Linked DNA regions of Homo sapiens. The protein of the gene in region 1 purifies or fractionates together with the protein of each later gene. This does not show direct contact. Each region holds a gene or a part of one and is shown in the gene's direction. Other genes may lie near its edges.

What was found. Proteins that work in one complex are often made in the same cells at the same time.
Region 2: the proteins of SYBU (region 1) and BICD1 purify together in Homo sapiens (affinity purification with mass spectrometry; 2 studies listed by BioGRID and IntAct, with this or other methods). This does not show direct contact.
Region 3: the proteins of SYBU (region 1) and TPH2 purify together in Homo sapiens (affinity purification with mass spectrometry; 2 studies listed by BioGRID and IntAct, with this or other methods). This does not show direct contact.
Region 4: the proteins of SYBU (region 1) and FAM91A1 purify together in Homo sapiens (affinity purification with mass spectrometry; one large-scale study listed by BioGRID and IntAct). This does not show direct contact.

What each region holds. Positions count from the first base shown.
Region 1 is NC_000008.11:109,641,050-109,646,574, reverse strand, and holds the start of SYBU (syntabulin), read left to right. Parts: upstream 1-1,752; 5' UTR 1,753-1,858; coding exon of another isoform or gene 1,859-1,915; coding exon 1,916-1,939; intron 1,940-2,352; exon of another isoform or gene 2,353-2,446; intron 2,447-3,384; exon of another isoform or gene 3,385-3,627; coding exon of another isoform or gene 3,628-3,642; coding exon 3,643-3,847; intron 3,848-5,525. UniProt on the Homo sapiens protein: Part of a kinesin motor-adapter complex that is critical for the anterograde axonal transport of active zone components and contributes to activity-dependent presynaptic assembly during neuronal development.
Region 2 is NC_000012.12:32,105,072-32,110,574, forward strand, and holds the start of BICD1 (protein bicaudal D homolog 1), read left to right. Parts: upstream 1-1,775; 5' UTR 1,776-2,260; coding exon 2,261-2,473; intron 2,474-2,590; coding exon of another isoform or gene 2,591-2,617; exon of another isoform or gene 2,618-2,819; coding exon of another isoform or gene 2,820-2,840; exon of another isoform or gene 2,841-3,573; coding exon of another isoform or gene 3,574-3,630; exon of another isoform or gene 3,631-3,737; intron 3,738-5,503. UniProt on the Homo sapiens protein: Regulates coat complex coatomer protein I (COPI)-independent Golgi-endoplasmic reticulum transport by recruiting the dynein-dynactin motor complex.
Region 3 is NC_000012.12:72,028,857-72,033,772, forward strand, and holds the end of TPH2 (tryptophan 5-hydroxylase 2), read left to right. Parts: intron 1-2,401; coding exon 2,402-2,535; intron 2,536-2,664; coding exon 2,665-2,839; 3' UTR 2,840-3,584; downstream 3,585-4,916.
Region 4 is NC_000008.11:123,774,451-123,779,366, forward strand, and holds part of FAM91A1 (protein FAM91A1), read left to right. Parts: intron 1-696; coding exon 697-848; intron 849-2,814; coding exon 2,815-2,872; intron 2,873-3,574; coding exon 3,575-3,642; intron 3,643-4,208; coding exon 4,209-4,322; intron 4,323-4,916. UniProt on the Homo sapiens protein: As component of the WDR11 complex acts together with TBC1D23 to facilitate the golgin-mediated capture of vesicles generated using AP-1.

The sequences.
Region 1 (5,525 bases):
TATTTGAAACAGCTGTGGGTGTAGAAAGTATGAATTAATCACCTCTTCTTCCCAAATAAAGAATCTTAAAATTACCAACCTCACTGCTTGAGAGAGCTAAGTAGATTGAAAAGGCATGAAGATTTATGGAGGAAGCTCTCTTTTGGAGTTATAGGAAGAAGGGAAATTGATTCCACTAATCCTCTGGCTTCAGGCTCTCTCTAGACTCACAACATATATTCTTAGGCTTGAGAGTTGAGGACTCAGAAATGCTGTTTGGAGGATGGATGAAAGGGGACAATGACCCTCAGTTTTCGAGGAGCACAGTCCTCCTATGTAGGACACTGGTGCATAAGGATCAGAGTGTCGCACTGCTTGGAATATTCTCCAATTCTGAATAAAGGGTATATAAGTCATTATACATGGTGAATTCCACCACCAGATAAGATTTAAGGGTAGCAATTGTAATAAATCAAGGCCCTTGGCCCAGCTGATGTACCCTATTCTAAGTCCCCAGTTGGACAGATTTTCGAGCTTTCTTAAACAAATTTGTGTGCATCACAAATGCTTTTTCTGCCTGTCATGTAAAAGGCATCAACAAATATTGACTGGATCATCTGGACCTGACTTAGCTGCCCTTTGGAAAGTTCTGTTCAATCAGCTGGATAGAGCTGTTTGTTTTCCTCACCTAACCCTCACAGCTATCCTAGAGGTAGGTATCACTATTATTATCCCTCAATTTAACAAGGGTAAATTTGAAGTTCAGAAGGGTCAAGAACCGTAGGCGTAGGCCACGCATGCAATGGCATCCGCATGTAATTCGAGCACTTTGAGAGGCCTGGACGGGATGATCCCTTGATCCCAGGAGTTAGAGGTTGCAGTGAGCCCTGATCGCGCCACTGTACTACAGCCTGGGCCACAGAACGAGATGCCGTTTCAACAGCAACGGAAAAAAAAAAAAACAAAAAACGAAACAACAACAAAAACTTTAGGCATAAAGGCACTCAGGCTGAAGGGACCGATTGGAGTGCTGGCTTGAACTCGTTTTTCTGAGTTCAATTCCAGTGCTCTTCCCTTAGCAGTGTGCTGGAGCTACTTCCTGGAGCCGGGCAGCTGCAGGGCAGCGCTGGGGAAAAGACTGTTCTCTGGCTACATAGCAGCCTGGCTTCTCCAAGCCGGAGGGAGCTGCGCTGACCACTGAAGGCCTTTCTGATGCAACCCCTTCCAAGTAGAATCCATCGCAGCCTTTCAGATCCCGGAACCCAGAGGCTGTGTCGGTCCTGACGCACTGGCTTGGCTGGGCTCCGGTACGAGAGGGATCTCTGCAGCTCTCGGGCGAGGCAGTTGTGGGGAGCTGTAGGCTGACTTAAGACCTGGAGGCCAAGGAGGGGTGGCCAGGGGAAAACTTTCTCTATTTTGTCTCTCTGTGATGTCGCAGCTTTTCTCAGTCACTCCATCCAACGCCACCCACTTCAAACCTGAGATCAAGTGCAAAAAAAAAAGAGGGTGGGGTCACCCCTGGGCTGGAGATGCCGCTAGCCGCAGCCTGCCTACACCGGGCCGAGCTCCTTGGAGAGGGAGGGACACCGGCTCTGGCTGGGGGGGCGCGGAGTGCCGTGGGGAAATCGGGCGGGTGGGGCGCGCCCAGGCGCGGTCGAGTTGCCCCGAAGGCCGCAGGTGAGGGAGGGCGTGGGAGGCGCCCCAGGAGCTGCCTCTAGCGAGTGCGGCACCACGTGTCCGGCCGGGGCGGGGTCGGGCGTGCCCTCGGAGCCCAGAGCAATCGGCGGCAGTGGCGGCGGCGGCGCGTTGGAGCCTCACCAAGAGCCGCCGCCCGCAGCCCGCGCCGGCTCAGCGCAGTCTCCTCGCTCCGTGCTCGCAGGTGCCTCCTCCTGGACGGCGGCAGCGGCGGCGCGAGGAGCCGGCGGGCAGCGGCGCGATGGGGCCCCTCCGCGAGAGCAAGGTAAGGAGCGCGGGGCAGTGCGGGCACTGGAGGGCGGGGAAGGCGGGCACTGCGGGGCGAGAAGCGGCGGGATGAGAGCTGGAGGGGTGACATTTAGAGTCTGGGGAAAGGTGGAAGGAGGTGGTGGTGGGGTCTGGAGAAGGCAGGAGGCATTGCTTAGGAGTTGAGATCCAGGAGATGGGGAGGTGGTACTGGAGGAATAGATTTTGGAGAATGACATGATTGGAGGGTTAATCCCACCTCCTGAAACTGGGACTGTGGGGTGTAGCTTTCAGTTGATATCCTGTGTGTGTGATGTGAATGAAAGGAATTTGATGCATCCGCGACTGGGAAAAGAGGACTCCCGCGTGTCAGTGACCCTGCCTTAGCTCAGGGTCTGCGGTGTGCCCGGCGGAGTGGCTGGCGCATGGTACCTGCTGGGCGGCAGATGTGCAGGGCGAATCCGAGGCTGCGTGCGGCTGGCGGCCCCCGGGTAGAGTGGATGCCTGAGGGCCCTCCGAAGTTCCCCATTGCTGAGGTTTACCCTTCAATTTATGCCATGTGCCGGCCTCCCAGAGGTGTTTATTTTGGCCGTGACCCTTCCTGGTAAGCCGGTGGAAGGAACAGTAGGTCATGTTTCGAAAGGGTGTTTGTTACCTAAGCCAAAGAGTCCCTTTCAGTGGCAGAGGTTGGAGGAAGCAGTGGAATTTTTGCAAAACGCTCCTCCTAGGAATCCATTTTCATAAGGCAGGGTGGTGGTGACCCTGCAAAGCACTGGATTTGAATTTCGTTCTACTTCTGGCATGGTGTGCAGAATTGCCTAAGCATCTCTACCCCATTTAGCCTGTTTCCTCATCTGAAAATAGGGACATTCATTGGTGTGCTCTCTATGTACAGTCTGGTGTGTAAAGATCAAATGAGAAAATGGTTGGAAAAGCACTTTATAAGTTGGAAAACATTGTGAAAATATTACTGTTACGCATTTTTAAAACCACGAAATGGCAGGGTACTTCATGCTGCGTTTTTAAGGAGAAAGAAAAATCTCTTCTTATGGATGTCCTGTAAGGAAAACAAAAATTAAAGATGATGTAAAAGGTGGAGCCATCTTCCCGAGTATCGGATTTGTGTTTGCTTTTCTGTTGGCAACAAGCCTTGTGTACCAGGATATTAACGAATAATTAAGATCCTGTCCAGAAGAGGAGGGATTTTAAAGATAATTGTGTGTGAGCTATCAGGAAATAACTGTTCCAGGTATAGGGTTCAACTTTGTGAGGAGACAAGAAAACAAGTCAGACTGTCACAGCTAATTTAGGGAAAGCAAAATGGAAGTCTGAAGGCTATCAAGTAAGCCAGAGTGTGGTGTTAATAAAGAGCCTTTGGGAGGCAGAAGCTTGAATGTGATAGAAGTCAGGGTGGGAAGGTGAGTCAGGACCAGCATAGGGAAGTAGGATGGCCTTCCAGCTAGTGAGTGGAGGTGTGTATATGTGTGTGTGTGTGTGTGTGTGTGTGCCACACAGACATGTGCTATTCAGTAGATTAGAAAGGTTAACTCATTGGAAGAGTTTTGAAGCTCATTTCAGCAACTGAGATAAGAAGGACTACTCTGTGAAGACTCAATACTCAGAAATGTGATTTCTTAGAAATTGATCCTTGAAGGAACCGACAGGAGTTAAGAGAGGGAAACGCGTTTCCTTTTGTTTTCTTTTTTGATGTCCAATTTTGAGAAGGAGCACAGAGTGCAGCATCATGACAAGGAGATTTCTCGAAGCCGAATTCCCCGGTTGATTCTTCGGCCCCATATGCCCCAACAACAGCACAAAGTGTCCCCAGCCTCTGAGTCTCCTTTCTCTGAGGAAGAGAGCAGAGAGTTCAACCCCAGCAGCTCTGGGCGCTCAGCGAGGACCGTTAGCAGCAACAGCTTCTGCTCAGGTACAGTACCCTCGGGAGGCCACCAGAGGCGTGAAGCGTGTGCACTGCAGGTGCATTGTGAATGGGCCCATACTGGGTCCCTTATAGCCTAGAACTACACTTCTACTATTAGGATGAATTGTAGAAGGTGGTACATTTCTGGCTGTTGTGACCTACAAACACAGCAGTTTCATATAGTTCAGTTTATTGGAATCTCACACCTGAATTTTCATATGTTATTCTAGCTTATAATTTCGAATGTAAAATCTAACTTCTTGTTTCTATGACTTTTTTCCTTTGTTTTATTATACTTTAATTTCTGGGATACACGTGCAGAACATGCAGGTTTGTTACATAAGTATACACATGCCATGGTGGTTTGCTGCACCCATCAACCCATCATCTACATTAGGTATTTCTCCTAATGCTATCCCTCTCCTAGCCCCCACCCCCTGACAGGCCCTGGTATGTGATGTTCCCCTCCCTGTGTCCATGTGTTCAACTTCCACTTATGAGTGAGAACATGCGGTATTTGGTTTTCTGTTCCTCTGTTTAGTTTGCTGAGAATGATGGTTTCCAGCTTCATCCATGTCCCTGCAAAGGACATGAATTCATCCTTTTCTGTGGCTGCATAGTATTCCTTGGTGTATATGTGCCACATTTTCTTTATCCAGTCTATCATTGATGGGCATTTGGGTTGGTTCCAAGTCTTTGCTATTGTGAACAGTGCTGCAATAAACATACGTGTCCATGTGTCTTTATAGTGGAATGATTTATAATTCTTTGGATACATACCCAGTAATGGGATTGCTAGGTCAAATGGTATTTCTGGTTCTAGATCCTTGAGGAATCGCCACACTGTCTTCCACAATGGTTGAACTAATTTACACTCCCACCAACAGTGTAAAAACGTTCCTATTTCTCCACATCCTCTCCAGCATCTGTCCATTCCTGATCTTTTAATTACTGCCATTCTATGACTGTTTTTAAAGATGCATTCCTTTGTTAAATGTAGAAAAAATATTGGATTGAATTTTATACTAGCAACTTCTAGAAGCCTGTGTACCTCTAATTATAAAATTCCCCAAAGATAAAGCAATTCCTAATAAATGAGGTCAAGATCAAGGAGAGTTATAGCCTAAGGCTGGCCTGGCCTTATGGTTTAGTAGGGAAGAGCCCAGGCTTTGTGATCTGTCAAGCCTGAAGGGCTGGAATCCCTGGCCCTTTCACCACTTACATACTGTGTGACCTTCAGCAAGTTGCTTAACCTCCTTAAGCCTTAGTTGTTACATCCATAAAATGAGATTATAATACTTGCCTTGTAGAGTGGCTGTGAAGTTGAATGAGACCAGTACCTAAATGTTCACCTTACACGGTACCTGGCTTACAGAAGTGCTTAATAAATGATGGTTCTTAATACAAGGAACTATGGATGTCTGTTTGGGCACGTGATTAAGAAAGTTTCCTTAAAGTTGTGAGCATGTTTGGTAAGGGCACAAATCTCTTGATAGTTCCTGAAGGTGCCACCATTATCATTTGACAGAGCTTTTTATTCCCATTGAAGCACATGACTTAGAAGGAGTTACTTGAGAAGTATTAGGAATTTGGGTAAAATTTAAAGGAGTGACTGTCTTATGACTAGTGAAGAATGTTTCACAGTGGATAATGTTTTAGAACTTATTTAGGGAACATGGAACTT
Region 2 (5,503 bases), on another chromosome or scaffold:
TGCTTTTTCTCCCACGCCATCAACAAGTGTCCTTTTTTTTTTTTTTTTTTGAGATGGAGTCTCTGTTGCCTAGGCTGGAGTATAGTGGTGCCATCTGTACCCTCCACCTCCTGGATTCAAGCAATTCTCCTGCCTCAGCCTCCCAAGTAGCTGGGATCACAGGCGTGCACCACCATACCTGGCTAATTTTTGTATTTTTAGTAGAGATGGGATTTCACCATGTGGGCCAGGCTAGTCTTGAACTCCGGACCTCAAATGATCCATCCACTTCTGCCTCCCAAAGTGCTGGGATTATAGGCGTGAGCCACTGTGCCCGGTCAACAATCATCTTTTTTTTTTTTTTTTTTTTTTTTACCAGGTACACAATGATGGGAGAGTTGAGTCCTGCTTTCTAACTTAGAAAACGCATGTGTGTTCATCACCTGGTCACTGAGAAACAGCTCTGGAATAGGTGCCATGCAGAAGAAGAGAGGGAACTGGAAAGACCCACTGATCTGTGGGTCTCACAGCCTCCCGTTACACAGAAATTGCTTCTTTTCTCTCATGTTGCGTTCTTCCTCTTGATTCTCGACCCTTCTCCACTCTTTCATTTACTCCACTCTTACTTTGCTTTCACCTCCTTTTGTAACCGTTCATCATCACTCTTCATATGGATTAATGTGATTATCTTAAAAGCATGTAATATGTAGTTGCTGGGTTTGTATGAGTAATGAGTGAACCTGAAGCCAACATAATGATCCCGTTTAGTGCTCCCGAGTTAAGATTCCAGAGTTGCCTGACTTTGGACAAATCACATCTCCCTTTGCCTTTCACCCCCTGTAAACTGAGGATAATGGCTCTTACCTCAAAGCATTGTTAGGATTGGAGAGAACGCATGTTACATACTTAGAAGAATGCTTGGTATGGGTCTCAAGAACTCTTAGCTCTTATTGTTTAAAAAATGCTTATTACAGGGCATCGTTGGTATCTTATATAGGGAATTTCAAGCAGTTTTCCTTTATTGAAGACACAGAGTAAGGTGCTTTGATGGAAACTATTGGGGCAAGATATACAGTACCTAGCTAGAGGTTTCCTGGGTGCATGTATTGTGGAGATATTTTTTTTCTGAGTGGATAGCGCTCTTGTGATACGCTGGGTGAGGGCGAGCAATATTTAGCGGACTGTCCTGTGAGGATAGTAAGGTTATCTGGTGAGAGTGTTAGGTGGCCCAGGCCAGACTTGGGAGAGGCAGGGAGAGAGGGGGACGACGGAGGAGGGCGCCTTGGGGTGCGTCTTGAAAGCTTTGGGAAACCCAGCGGTCTTTTGGGGGCAGGTGGCCCAAAAAGCCTTCTGCGCGCCCAGGGGACGAGGAGGATGCGCGGACCGCGACCGCGATAGTTTTGTTTGCTTTTCTCGGGAGAAAGCGTTCCAGGCAGTTTCCTGAGCTTCGGCCCTCGACGTAGCAAAAGAGCCCGGGCGCCCACGCCGCTCTCGGGGTCTTCTACTGCCACCGGGACAAAGCCCTGGGAGGAGCTCCCGCCCCCGCGAGCCGGACAGGGCGGAGGCTCCCCCGCCGCGCGCGCCCCACCGCTTCCCAGTCCCAGACCCGTCGCCTGCGCCTCCTCCTGGCGCGCCTCACGGTGCAGCGGGCGGCGGCCCGCGCGCCCGGCGGGAGGCGCCTCGGGATGTTTCCGTCTGGTCCTTCCCTCCGCCCCCCGCGCTGACTCCATCCGCTCCCCGCCCCCTGCTCGGAGCCGCCGCCACGCGGGAAGGGAGGGAGCCGGCCCCGAGACTGCATCATTCCGCACCGGCTGCTGCAGGGCCAGAGGGAGCAGGTGGAGCGAGAGAGCGAGCCGCGAGCCGGAGCGCGCCAGACCCAGGGCGAGACTGCAGTGACGCGGCCCGGGAGACATGGCGGACGGGCGTCTCTGAATAAGCAGAATCCGGAGCCCCTCGCTACCCGCGGCCGCCGCAGCCCGGGCCATGCCGCACGGCTGCTGACCGCACGCAGGGGCCGGCCCCGAGGACACATGCGGCGGCCTTTGCCGCCTCGCCCCTGACCCTCTGCCCTGTTCTCCATGTTGCATTTCTCGTCAGTTTCTCGGGCGGTGTAGCTGCCGCTGCCACCAGAGCCGGCGGGGCATCGCGCTGCTCATTCATCCGGCCGCACTTTCTTTTCCGTTTCCACCCATCCCTTCCCATTTCCTTCTCCCTTTCCCCGCCAGCTTCGCATCCATCTCCCCCACCCCGTAACCCCCTCCTGCCTCCATCCACCGGGGCTATGGCCGCAGAAGAGGTATTGCAGACGGTGGACCATTATAAGACTGAGATAGAGAGGCTAACCAAGGAGCTCACGGAGACCACCCACGAGAAGATCCAGGCTGCCGAGTACGGGCTGGTGGTGCTGGAGGAGAAGCTGACCCTCAAACAGCAGTATGATGAACTGGAGGCTGAGTACGACAGCCTCAAACAGGAGCTGGAGCAGCTCAAAGAGGTGAGTTGCCTGTCACCTCTCCCTTTCCTGGCCCTCACTCCCCCCACCCGCAAGGCCCACTCATCATGATCAAGAAGTCATAAAGGAGGTGATTGAAAGGACTGTTTTTTCTTCTAGGGCCCTTTGTTGGTAAGAGAAGATTGAAAGAGTCCATTGTTTCCTCCCCCAAGAGAAAAATTGCCTAAGAAATGAATATATAAGCTGGAATTTGGGAGGCAATGGCTGTTTGGCCTGCGGGGGAGGGAGATTAGTAAGAGTCATCAAGTCTCAGCACTCTAAGACGACATTCAAGTGGGTTGGAATGTATAAATCAAACTTCTCAAAACCGCTGTTATCTCAAACCCAGGTTTCAGCGACAATTTCGTAGTCCACAAAAGTGATGAGGTTTGTGCCTGAGGACCCACAATTTCAGGATTTAGACTGTGTGGCACCTCAGCTTTCCTCTGGATGTAACCACTCCTTGGTGAGAGAGGGAACTCCTCACCAATCCCATTTGACAAAGGCTAGGCAATCTTCATTCTGCTTGGCTTTAGTCATTCTTGTCATTGGGCTGCAGAAGAAAAACAACTTTGCTGGGTGATCCCACTGCCTTGATTTCACCTCGGAGCGAGGCTGGGCCATGTCCAAGTCTTATGAGGTCACCCTGACTAGAAAAAATTGAACTCACCTACAAATAGTCTGAAAGAGTGGTGTATATCAAATACGTGGGTAGTGTTGCATTTCAAATGAGGCTCTTCTGGTTGAAATGATATATTTATAAAACCAGAATATCAAAAATGGGTGATGTATAATGTCTCTTTAGTTTTTTGGTATTTGGCCTCTTTTAAAGCCTGTCGGATGTATGGGAGAAAACAATGAACGTGCTTTGATTTCCTATCAGTCACTCTTAAGAACATACATATTGTTTAAGTAACTCGGTCTTTTTTATCTGATTCTTGAGGCACTATGGGTAGCAAATAACCACTTACAAATTTAAATGTAATATACACTCCTTTTCTGTGTGTCAAGTCCTTATTTTTAGGTGCATATTGACATTTAAATGTTAATTATTGTTTGGCATATAATATCAAAAATCTATTATTTATTTTATGCTGTTACAGTTAAAAGATGTGATTTATGACATACTGAATCAACTTGCCTTCCAATTTAGTGTGTAATATGGTAAGCATTTATACTTTTAGATATGTCTTATTTTTATTTGGATGCCTGTCTACCAAAAAATAAATGTACTACCTATGATTAAAAATCCCAACTAGGAATCTAATTTTTGTGTGTCAGGCTGTAAATTTCTGGTTCCTATTTTACTTACCATGTACCTGTCTGGTCTTAACAACAGCTGGACTTGTTTATATTTTCCAACTTAGATTAGGCTGACATGTTTAAATGCAGTGATGCTAAACCTTGTGAAGTGAGGAAGCAGGATGATGACTGTCATTCTCAGAGATGTTTTGATATTGTCTATACCTATCAACACTGCTTTGCCAAGATAGGGAAGTGCAAACCAGAAAGTGGTAAGCCATCACCTTCTTGATAAAGGAGATGGACTTAATTTAATGAAATGTACCTCTTACTGACTTTGCTGCTTGATTTAAACAATCCTTCTAGGGATATTTCTGTCATTGCACTTACCTTGCATAGCAAACCTTAATGCAATTGTGTTTTGCCTTTGCTACACCATGAGCTTTGCATCCCAAGTCTTTAACACAAAAGCTAGCACACAGTGGGCATGAAATATTTTATGAAAGAATCAGTTTGTACTAGAAGAAGGCACACTTTTATCAAGGGTTCACTAGTCAATATTGATTAGTGTTAGATAAATACTAAGAAAATTAGGATGTATAGGAAGTGACAGATGTTAATAAAACTACCTGTATTAGTTTCACCAGCAGTAATGAGAAAAATGTGAAAAAAACGTTTTGTAGGAATAATGTAACTGTGGTTTCTTAATACAGAATAATGCAAATACCAACTAAAATTTTTTCTATAAATATTTTAATATATATTTTGTTCTATATAGCAGGAGGTTAATAAAAATTTACCAGCATTATTTTTACTAAACGATTCTTGTTCATATATTTATTTTCAGTTGCATTTAGCATAAGTGAAATTCGAGATTCCTAAAAAACTGGTTTATACAGTTATATAAAAATGTATTTTAGGTAATAAAATTATTATAGTTGATTATTTGATAGTGAGGCCTATTATTTTTATTCTTTAAACATAGAATATACTTTAGTTGGAAATATAACTTAAATGAGTTAAATTGATTTCAAGTAACATTTCTTGTATGAAAAGTAAATCCAAAATAATTGTGCAAACTGAGGTGTTCCAACACCTCAGTTTTGAAAAATATTTTGTGAGTGTTTTGATTTTTCAAAAGAAAGTTTTGCTCATCAGGTATGTATAGTAAATGATGTTGCATTATATCTATAAAGCCAAGCATAAAATAAATCTTTGCTTATTTCTAGGATTTTTGAACAAATATGATTTATTTAAAAATAATTGAACCAGTTTATGGGAATGTCAACAGAAAACTACTGTATTAAGTCCAAATTGGACATTAGTAATTTGCAGTATAGCAACATGGCTCAGTCTTTGCAGATCATTTTGTTTTCCAGAGTCAGTACCCACCAATGTTGCTACCTTCCTTCCCAGGCTAGGTACTGCTGTGACAATAATGCAAGTCGGCAGTGTTGCCTAAAGATGTGCAAAATCAAGAAGATGAAATTCATTAAATTTTTTTCCTAGTTATTTCTTCCCTCAACTCAATTGTTTTTTGACCTGGCCTGATGTTGTTTAGTGCTCTGCATGGACTACTGTAATTCAGCTCACAGAAGAACACACTTGAAAGAATAGTACTAAGGATTTGAAAAAAGGATGACTTCTGACATCATCAAAGTGTTCTCCTTTTCATGATTCTTTGGGCAGCTGGACAGAGCAGTATGTCCACTAGAATACTTGAGTCTGGTTTTGTGATTTCACAAGTAACACTTGCTCTTCAGTGACCTGAGTGAGGGTCACCCATGCCCA
Region 3 (4,916 bases), on another chromosome or scaffold:
GCGTGATCTATATTCCTAATGGCCTGCCTCAAATTACATGTGTGTGAACCCACTGGTTTTTCTTGAAGTCTGGGGCAGAGTGCCGTATGCTCTGGGCCTTTTCTTGATCTACTTTAATGCTTTTTAGCTGTTAAAATGACTAAATACGTATCTGGCTATCCAGTGGAATTGTCACAAAATGATATTTTTTCCAAAACCACACTGATTTCAGTCTCTGTCATTGCATACACACCTCTGGAGGCATCCTCTATACATAGTGACTGCTAAGGTTGCTAATGTCTTATAGAAGCAATGGAGACACAAACAGATGAGTTTCACTTCTTTCTTGTGCTTGTCCTTGACCCAGTGAAATGTCTTTAGCTTAGCAAGGATGTCCCAAGGGAGCCATGGCTTTAATGTTCTTACAGCCTATTCTGCTACCACTCTGGCCATGACCCTGAATGCAGGGATGAGAGAGTAGGAAGACTAAACACATTGAGCCAGCCACAGTCCTTTCCATATGTACTGATGGATGAATGGACTGTTAGAACAACGTAGTACATTAAATGTAACCAGAGTGTACGGATGCAAAGAAAGCTAATTCGAATTCTGAAAATCATGGCAAGCCAACAGGAAGCCAATTTTTTGCAGAGGGGCAACAACTTTCATAAAGGGACATTTTGTTTCTTGAAACTGTGAATATGTTTCTAAAATTGTGGACAGAATTATTGGTCATGTGGAACCAAAATCCCTTGATGTTCACTGCCCTGCATTGAATCTAGCACAAATGCATTTGCAAGTGTAGTGACCTTCTGCTTATAATGAAGTTGTTCTGTGGGCCAAAAAAAATGAGTTCACGCTGAGAGGCCCTCTGCATTCTGTGATTCATATATGCATTTATCTGGACAATGGAACTTTGCAGGAAAGCAAATCACATGCAGGGTGCCCTTTCTCTTACATGTCAGTCTTTTGGTTCTCAATTGCATTTTCAAACTTAGGGAACCACAGACTTCTTCATGGAGGGCTGTAAATCATTCCATGCATTTTGAAATTGTTGGAGGAATGCACGAAGAATATTGAACAGGAAAGGGTTTTCTGAATTTCTCCAGGAAACCTTAGCTGTTAGAGACTGAGAAGGTAGAAAAGTATAATGGGTGGAATCCAGAGGCTGGGATAGAGATTGTCTTCAGAATCTTCCCGCCTAAAACTCTCATTTACAGTTGAGGAAATGGAGGCACAGGGAGGTTGAATGATTGCTGAGGTTACCCAGTTAGACCTGGACTAAAGCCCCAGTTTTCCAACTCTCAGTTCACGGCAGTTTCTGCTACCCCATTTTTTCTCTCTGCCTCTCTCTCCCAACTAATTTCCCCCTTAAATTAAGAAAAAGAATTAAGAGGAGTATTTCTCAATATATAGTTCACAACCACTTATATTGGAGTCAACTTGGATGCCTTTAAAATGAAGATTTCTAGGTTTCATCCAGACCTGCCAAATGAAATTGAGACCCTGGATATCTGCATTTTCATAAGCTCCTCAGTGATTCTTATGCACATTGCATTTTTAGAACCATCAATCTAGGGTCTATAAATAGGCAGCACATGGCAGGAAATGACCACTAACTTTTAACATCACTGAATTTATCTTGAGAATATAGTCATTCATTGTTCCCTGCTGTTCTTAGTGCTAGTCATGTAGTGAGCTGAACGGAGCTAATGATGGTTCAAAGAGTAATTACGCCAGCTTTCCTGTTTTTCTAATACCTGCTCTTGGCATAACTCTGACTATTAATATTAGCTCCTTTTTTCCTCAAGTGGCAATATTTATCTGCTGTATATTGCTCTGCTGTACTTGGTGGAAGGTAAATGAATGCTTTTTAAGTATCCTCAAATATACAGGCCCACTCCAGACTCTGTTGATACACAGTACCTGGCCTCAAAATATCTCCCAATGAATAGACAAATAGTTTAGTCAGAGCCCCAATTACCTCTCCATGCAGATAATTATTACTTCTGCCATTTAAGTGAAATTTTAGTACATTGCTTATAGCAATAAATTTTGGAGCATATTTATGCTGTCCCTGCTTCTATTCATAGCATAGATTTAAAATCCCATTTCTGTGGGGGAATAGCTCTGAACTGTCCTTCAGTATGAATTTGGCTGGTAATAAATTAAATAATACCACAATCTCATTTTCTCCCACAGTACCTAGCATACTTAAAAAAGCAAAACAAACAAACAACCAAACAAAATCCTAGTTTCCAATTTACCCTGCACACAGGAGAGTTCCATATTTCATGACAGACTAGTAACTGAGCAGCTCTGTAGGATTACCGAGCTATCAAATGTGTTGTAAAAATGTGATGTCATGGAGCTTCGGAAGTCTCATTACAGAGTTTAACAGGTTTTGTGGTATATTTTGCAGCACGCCCTTTCTGACAAGGCATGTGTGAAAGCCTTTGACCCAAAGACAACTTGCTTACAGGAATGCCTTATCACCACCTTCCAGGAAGCCTACTTTGTTTCAGAAAGTTTTGAAGAAGCCAAAGAAAAGATGAGGTAAACTTTTTTTTCCTCCTAGCTAGAGAAAATAACTTTTTATTTTTCTGTCTCTATTCCTTCCTTTTATCTATCCCTCGTACCAATGAGGGTTGATCACATCTCTTTCTACTTCTGTTTATTCTGCAGGGACTTTGCAAAGTCAATTACCCGTCCCTTCTCAGTATACTTCAATCCCTACACACAGAGTATTGAAATTCTGAAAGACACCAGAAGTATTGAAAATGTGGTGCAGGACCTTCGCAGCGACTTGAATACAGTGTGTGATGCTTTAAACAAAATGAACCAATATCTGGGGATTTGATGCCTGGAACTATGTTGTTGCCAGCATGATCTTTTTGGGGCTTAGCAGCAGTTCAGTCAATGTCATATAACGCAAATAACCTTCTGTGTCATGGCTTGGCTAATAAGCATGCAATTCCATATATCTATACCATCTTGTAACTCACTGTGTTAGTATATAAAGCACCATAAGAAATCCAATGGCAGATAACCACTCATTGTATGAAATAACGTATTATGTTTAAACATCTTAAAAAGATTTGACATTCCTGCTTAGTGTCCTTAACCAAACTGCATCTAGTTAAAATTTGTAACAAATAGCCCTCTTATGAGTCTCATTTATGCCCTTTTCTTTTTCAGATCTAAGCCTTTCCTCTGTGTTCATTAGATAAAATGAAAAAAAGCAGTGAAGCTGTTTCCATTTTCAATAGTATCAGTGTTTTCACGCATTATTTGAGATAAACCCAGAATTGTAGGAAACTTCCCATCACAATAACAAAGGTTCAATATTCTATTTCAAAAATTGTTGAGGTAACACAGCAGTTGGAATGATTTTTAGGTTGAGTATTTACACAATGCAAGAAAACACCTTTTTACAAATGGAATTATGTAGGTTGCGTTGACCTTGTAGAACCTGAGTTATGACAAGCTTCCTGAAGTATTTTGGAAGATAGTACTTCCGGAAAGGACATTAGGAAAGACTAAACAGTGGACAATCAATCTTGGGACTATGAATTTTATGCTGGAATAAAGTAAATTATCATGTTCAGGTGTTTAAACAATTTTTTTCTGGTCAGAGGAGAATAAAATCACAGAGCTATAAAGATCATCTTTGATTTCAGAGATGTGGAAATTGAGTCACAGAGAAGTTGTGATTTGCCTGAAGCAGTACAGTGAGTTGTACACTAACATTCACAGTCCATTGCACTTTCCTTTTGTTTTGCTGATAAATTCGTCCCAGTGCTTGCATGTGTTTCTGTGTCATCCGAGATGGGAAACTTCATCTTGGTGTGTGCATGTGTTAATATGTCATTGGAGATAGGAAATAATGCCTATCCAAACTAATGTTTATCAGTAAATAGAACTTGGTTTGTGGTCAAGGGTTGCCAACTGTATATATGTTGTTTCCCCTCACAGCTGCAAATCAGGCCAAATCTATGGAAGGTTCTCCACTTTCCTAAAGTTTGGGCAACTTTGGGTAAACAGTAGTGATGCAGCACACAGTTTTGGTGGTCTTTGCAGTAAAAGATGAAATTAAGTGGTTAAGTGAACAAATAGAAAACTGCTGAGAGTGAATGAATTTCTTTGGATTCCCTCACTGAACATAACTACTGTTCTTCTGATTCTGCATTTGGTAGTAAGGAACACTGGACTGGGGAAGGAAGGGGCAAGAAAAACTAGAGAAAAAAAATGACAAAATAACCTTTAGCAATTTAAAATATTTACTTGAGCAATTTCCAAAGATGTTCTTTTAGTAAGAAATTACATATAATTTTAAACTAATTCATACTCTTATGTGGAGCCCACAAAGGGTCAGAAATCTTTGGACTAAATATATTCAGGAAGAACATGAGAAAGAGCTAAAAGACACATCAGGGAGAGATCAAACTAAAATGAAAACCCAGAGGTTTGAATATTGGTTGTCTTAACGATTGAGGATCTTTTATCTCTGAAGCATTCTCAGAACAACTGAATTTTGAGAAATAATTTGGTGGATAGAATGTGAGAGTCACAAAATATAAATGCTATTCCAGGTGAAGGGAATAGTGCCTTGAAAAATTGGTGGTGGAGAAATGAGGAACAAGCTAAACCAAATTTAAAAGATCTAGATTGATCAAGCAGTCATATATTTTGATAGTTTCATAGATCCATAAATATATAGTTTCTTATATCTTGCTTTGCTAGCTTTAGATGACCCTGAATAAATTACTTATAAATTAGAATCCAGAATCATAATCCAGAATAGCATATCCACAGATTTTCAGAACTGGTTGCTGAATTTTCTCAGAGAAGAAAATTGGCTAAGAAATGCTCAATGTCTGCCTTCGGTGTTGTTTTCATAATTTGGTATTGCTTTAGACACAAGTCCTAGAGTCCTG
Region 4 (4,916 bases), about 14 Mb from region 1:
CATAAAAGAAAAAGTATATTAGTTCTTAGTAATTTTTGACTTTGGGTTGTCTCCATAAATTTTCCAAATAATATGAAAAACTTTATAATAATTGGGACACATTTTAAACATAGTTCATTCCATGATTTTTTTTTCTTCTTTCTAAAAAAAAATTTGTTTATTTATCAGATTATTTTGGTTAGTCTATTCTGTTGCCCTGGTAGTCTTTCACTCCTGTTTGTTACTCTTATTTTAAGCATAATATTTCTGACATTGTTTTTCTTCATGAACATTTTCCATGAAAGTCAGAGGGCTTTTTACATTTAAAAACTAAAAAAGCAGCAAATAATTTTTAAAAATAGACTTGACTTCATTGAAAACGAGCATTCAGTTTGGCTCTCTTGTAAGGTAGTAGAATACAATTCAATAAAGCTCTGTTTTGTACCTTTTTGGGGGGCATGCTGGTAGTTCCATGCTTGTTTTCTCATTTGGCAAGAATTATTCTCTACTAATCTGTCCTATTATTCATTTTACTTCTATACTCTAAAATCTATTTCATGTGATATATTTCTTTGTTCCAACTTAGAATATTTTATTTGTTCTCTTGTAATTTACATACTTTTCTTTTAAATTACTGTTGGTTTGTAAAGTGTTCATAGTTAATATATAACTATAAGAAACCTGAAAAAAACTGGAGAATTTCCCTCTTTTGTGCAGTTAAACATGTCAAGAAAGATGAACGCAGATACTATGAGGAACTGCTAAAGTACAGCCGAGATCATCTCATGCTGTACCCTTACCATCTATCGGATATTATGGTGAAAGGCTTGAGGATAACACCATTTTCATATTATACTGGGATTATGGAGGTGAGTTTACAGTGTGGGTGAGCCAGTGGGAATGGGATGGGACTACATGTCTGGGACTTTTTGCAGATGTTCACCAGCTCTTCAGCTGTCGTCTGCGGTGGACACTCTTTCAGAACTTATAGTGTAAAAAGGACTATTGGTGGCTTGTTAACTGTTTGAGCCACACTGTACAAGTACTTATCCTTATTGATGTTTTTACATTGGGAAGCTGTCTATTTCTCTTCTGGTCTTGAAGGTGCTATTGACCCTTTGTGCTGTTGTAGTACTGATCAGTCATTTATGTTGGCAGAGTCTGTGTAAAATTTATTGCTTTTTAAAACGTGATTAAGGTTGAAAATGTGGGTGACAGAATTGAACATTATGTTCTGAGAAAATTAATGTATTTAGGCTGGGAGCAGTGGTTCACGCCTGTAATCCCAGCACTTTGGGAGGCCAAGGTGGGTGGATCATGAGGTCAGGAGATCAAGACCATCCTGGCCAACATGGTGAAACCCCGTCTCTACTAAAAGTACAAAAATTAGCCAGCCGTGGTGGTGTGCACCTGTAATCCTAGCTACTCAGGAGGCTGAGGGGGGAGAATCGCTTGAACCTGGGAGGTGGAGGTTGCAGTGAGCCGAGATAGCGCCACTGCACTCCAGCCTGGGTGACACAGTGAGACTGTCTCAAAAGAAAAAAAAGAAAAGAAAAGAAAATTAATGTATTTAACTATTCACTAACTGTCTAAAGAATGAATGATGACATAGACCCAACATTATATAATACAGGTGCCAGAAAAGAGAAATATGTTAGTAGTCTTGGCTGTTAATCTCTTTCTATAATTATTAACTTTTAGTTGTTAGCCTTTTTCCAAAGACAGCTTTTAGGCTTGTATTGGATAACTTTAATACTAGTTATATACTGTTTTCAAGTGAGCTTTATTAAAGATTGGCAGTATTTATTTAGTATTCATTTGCTCCTTAATTATGTTTGAGTGCTTCTGTTTGGGGCTCACTAGCCGCTTGAAGAGCAGAGAGGAGCCTAGAACTAAAGGAGTTGGGAACGTGTGGTAACATGAGGTTAGCCCTACATACGATGTGTGCTTTGCTGTTTGCTCCCTTCGTTATCTCCAGAAGCCCCTCCTTCATGGGTGCTTCTGCAGTCCCATGCATCCCGTGTTCCTCTTTTGGAGGAAATACTGGAGGAAAGCGAGAGGCCCGATAGCCCAGGTAGCATAGTGAAGAACCAGGGTAGCATAATGAAGGTGGCAGCTAATCAGGAAGTAGAATAGTTACTGCTGTCTCTTTATTTTTCTAGTGTAGTCCACAAATTTGGGAGCTAAAATAGGTGGAGTTTTTGTTTCACTTATCAGCTTTCATTTCAGTTACATCCACATGGTTGCTGCATTCTGGTTTCTGTTATTCTATCATTGGGTATAGTTCCTCGGTAGAAAACGGGCCTTATCCCCACAGGAAGCAGTGGGTTTGTTATTGGAGAAACAGATTGGGGCAGAAAAAGCTGGATACCAAGTTTAGCTCTTCTACAGATTGGGACTTGTGGGATCAAAGGCCACTAAGTGGTTGTAGTCTTCATTGGTAGTGCATGTTGATGGAGCTGTGCCACATTATTTGGCTTTCTCTCATGGTGGAGATCTAGGATCAGGTATGAAATGTGGAGAGGCTGGAACCCTGAGCTCTAATGGAGCCATTACTTACATAGCTTCCACAGGGCAGAGGTTATGGGGCAGCTGCCTGGGATTCGTAGAGAGCCTCTTAAGAAACCTAGACCTGAAAATCTGCCCTTTAATTACTAGGTTGGGAACATGTGTGGAAAGTGCCACAGGGTGGCATGTATGCTCTAGGTAGCCAAACTATGATCTTACTGCTTCCTGTAATAATCATTGTTATTGGCTGTAATAATATTGTATTTATACACATTTTTATTTAAGGACATTTTAGATTTCAAATTTAAATTTTTTTCTTTTTAAAAGGATATTATGAACAGTGAGAAAAGTTATGATTCATTGCCCAATTTTACTGCTGCTGACTGTAAGTATTTAATTGTGCTGAAGAAGGTAATGTTTAGGTTGTGTCTTTGTGCATCCTGTCATCTGTGAATATTGTCATGTGTGTTTTTAACCTGAAATATGTGAAAAATGAGAACAGTAAGCAACATTATCAGTGAGAATTTTATCAGATGATACCAGATGCATGTGTAAGATTTACTCTAAATGTCTAAGAGAGGCATATTTGAGAGTGGTAGAATCAGAAAAATAAGACTAATCTATATATTTCCAGAGAATGAAGTTCTTTCTGATACTTGGGCTGTGTGTATATTGAATGTGGGAGGAAAACTTGTGCACAGTATTTTTGCAGGGTGACATACAGTTTTTAGTAACTTAACTTGCTGCTGTTTTAGTATGCTTACTTTGGCAAAGTGTATATTTTGAATGTGTCATAATTCTGTTGTTTAAGAAGCTTTCGCTGAGAATTACATTTTGACTTCCTAAAATTGGCAGGACTTCTGCTTTTTTAAAATGTTTTTGTTAGAAGTGTCATCTTGAATTCATCTCTCCCAAAGTTTAGCTTTCATTTATGTTTTGGTTGAAGACGTCCTTTTAATTTGATATTGATATTTGACTAGTAATTGAAAGATGAAAATAAGCTCGGGTTTTTCCTACAATCGCTTGTGAACATATTGAGATTTCAAGATATGTTAAATGTTTTTAAAGGAAAGACTCTTTTTTTCAGGTCTAAGGCTTCTTGGCATAGGAAGAAACCAGTATATTGATCTTATGAATCAGTGTAGATCATCAAAAGTAAGTTAGTACTTTCTTTTTCATTGTTTTGGCCTCATCACACAGTTTGATTAGTTTTTTTAAGTGGTAGAAATAATGAATTGTATGTCTTTGACCAAATAAAATGTACTTAACACAGAAACAATACAAAAAAAACTCCTCAGTATTCTCTAGGTTATAGCATAAATGATTATTTAAAATTTTTAATGCATAAAACATTTATTTTTAAAAATTATTTTTGTTCTCTTAGTCTTTTTATTTGCTCATTCTACTTGTACAGTTCACTTAGTGGGTGAAAAAAGTGTTTGCATTTTCAAATGCATTTTTCACTGCTTGGGTTTCACTTGAGTTTGTGGAAGTAAATCTGGATTTAACAATTAGTGTTTTGAAACAATTTATTTTGAAACAATTTAAGAATGACTTTCTTCATACAATATGTTAATATCTAGAATTGTTAAGATTTTAAAACATGAAGATTTTAAGAAGATATTTATTTAGTCCATTAGAAACAATCTTATGATATGATTGATGAAAGAAGAAAGTGGTAGTTTTAGATTGCAAATTCTCAAATGTTTGTACCATTGCAGAAATTCTTCAGAAGGAAAACAGCCCGTGATCTTCTACCAATAAAGCCAGTGGAAATTGCCATAGAGGCGTGGTGGGTGGTGCAGGCTGGCTATATCACAGAAGATGACATCAAGGTAGAAATCTTTAAAAGTTAAACATAGAATTTTTATTTTTTAGTTTATTTTACAATTTTTAATTATAGCTTATAATTTTTTAAAAAGTAACATTGTTTTCCTGAAGAAAAGGAAACTTAAATTTAAAATTTAAAATGATCTTAGTAGACTAGAATATTGGTGAGTTTTTGAGATACTCTTTAATGGTGAGGGAGACTTGACTTGGTTCAAGTACAGTTATCTGGGGATGTTAATTAGATAGAAGCTTCGTGTAAAGTAACATGATGCCACAGCTACCTACAACAATAATACTGGCTAACACTTTTGAATACCTGCTGTGTGCTAGATGTGCCAAGCTCTATTACAAGTGCTTTTTATATTGTCTTACTTAATTCTCATAACAGCCCCAGAGGTATGTATTATTTGTACCCCCATTTCACAGATGAGGAAAGTGAGCACAGAACAATTAAGTAACAGCTCATGTCTTAGTGGTAGTAAAGGTCCAGGATTTTTTGGCAGTTCACCATGAAACTTGTACTCTTAATCACTGCAAAGAACTGTTGTACTGAAGTGATAGGTGCTTTTATGGGGCGATAGTGTCAAGATCAAGAGAGT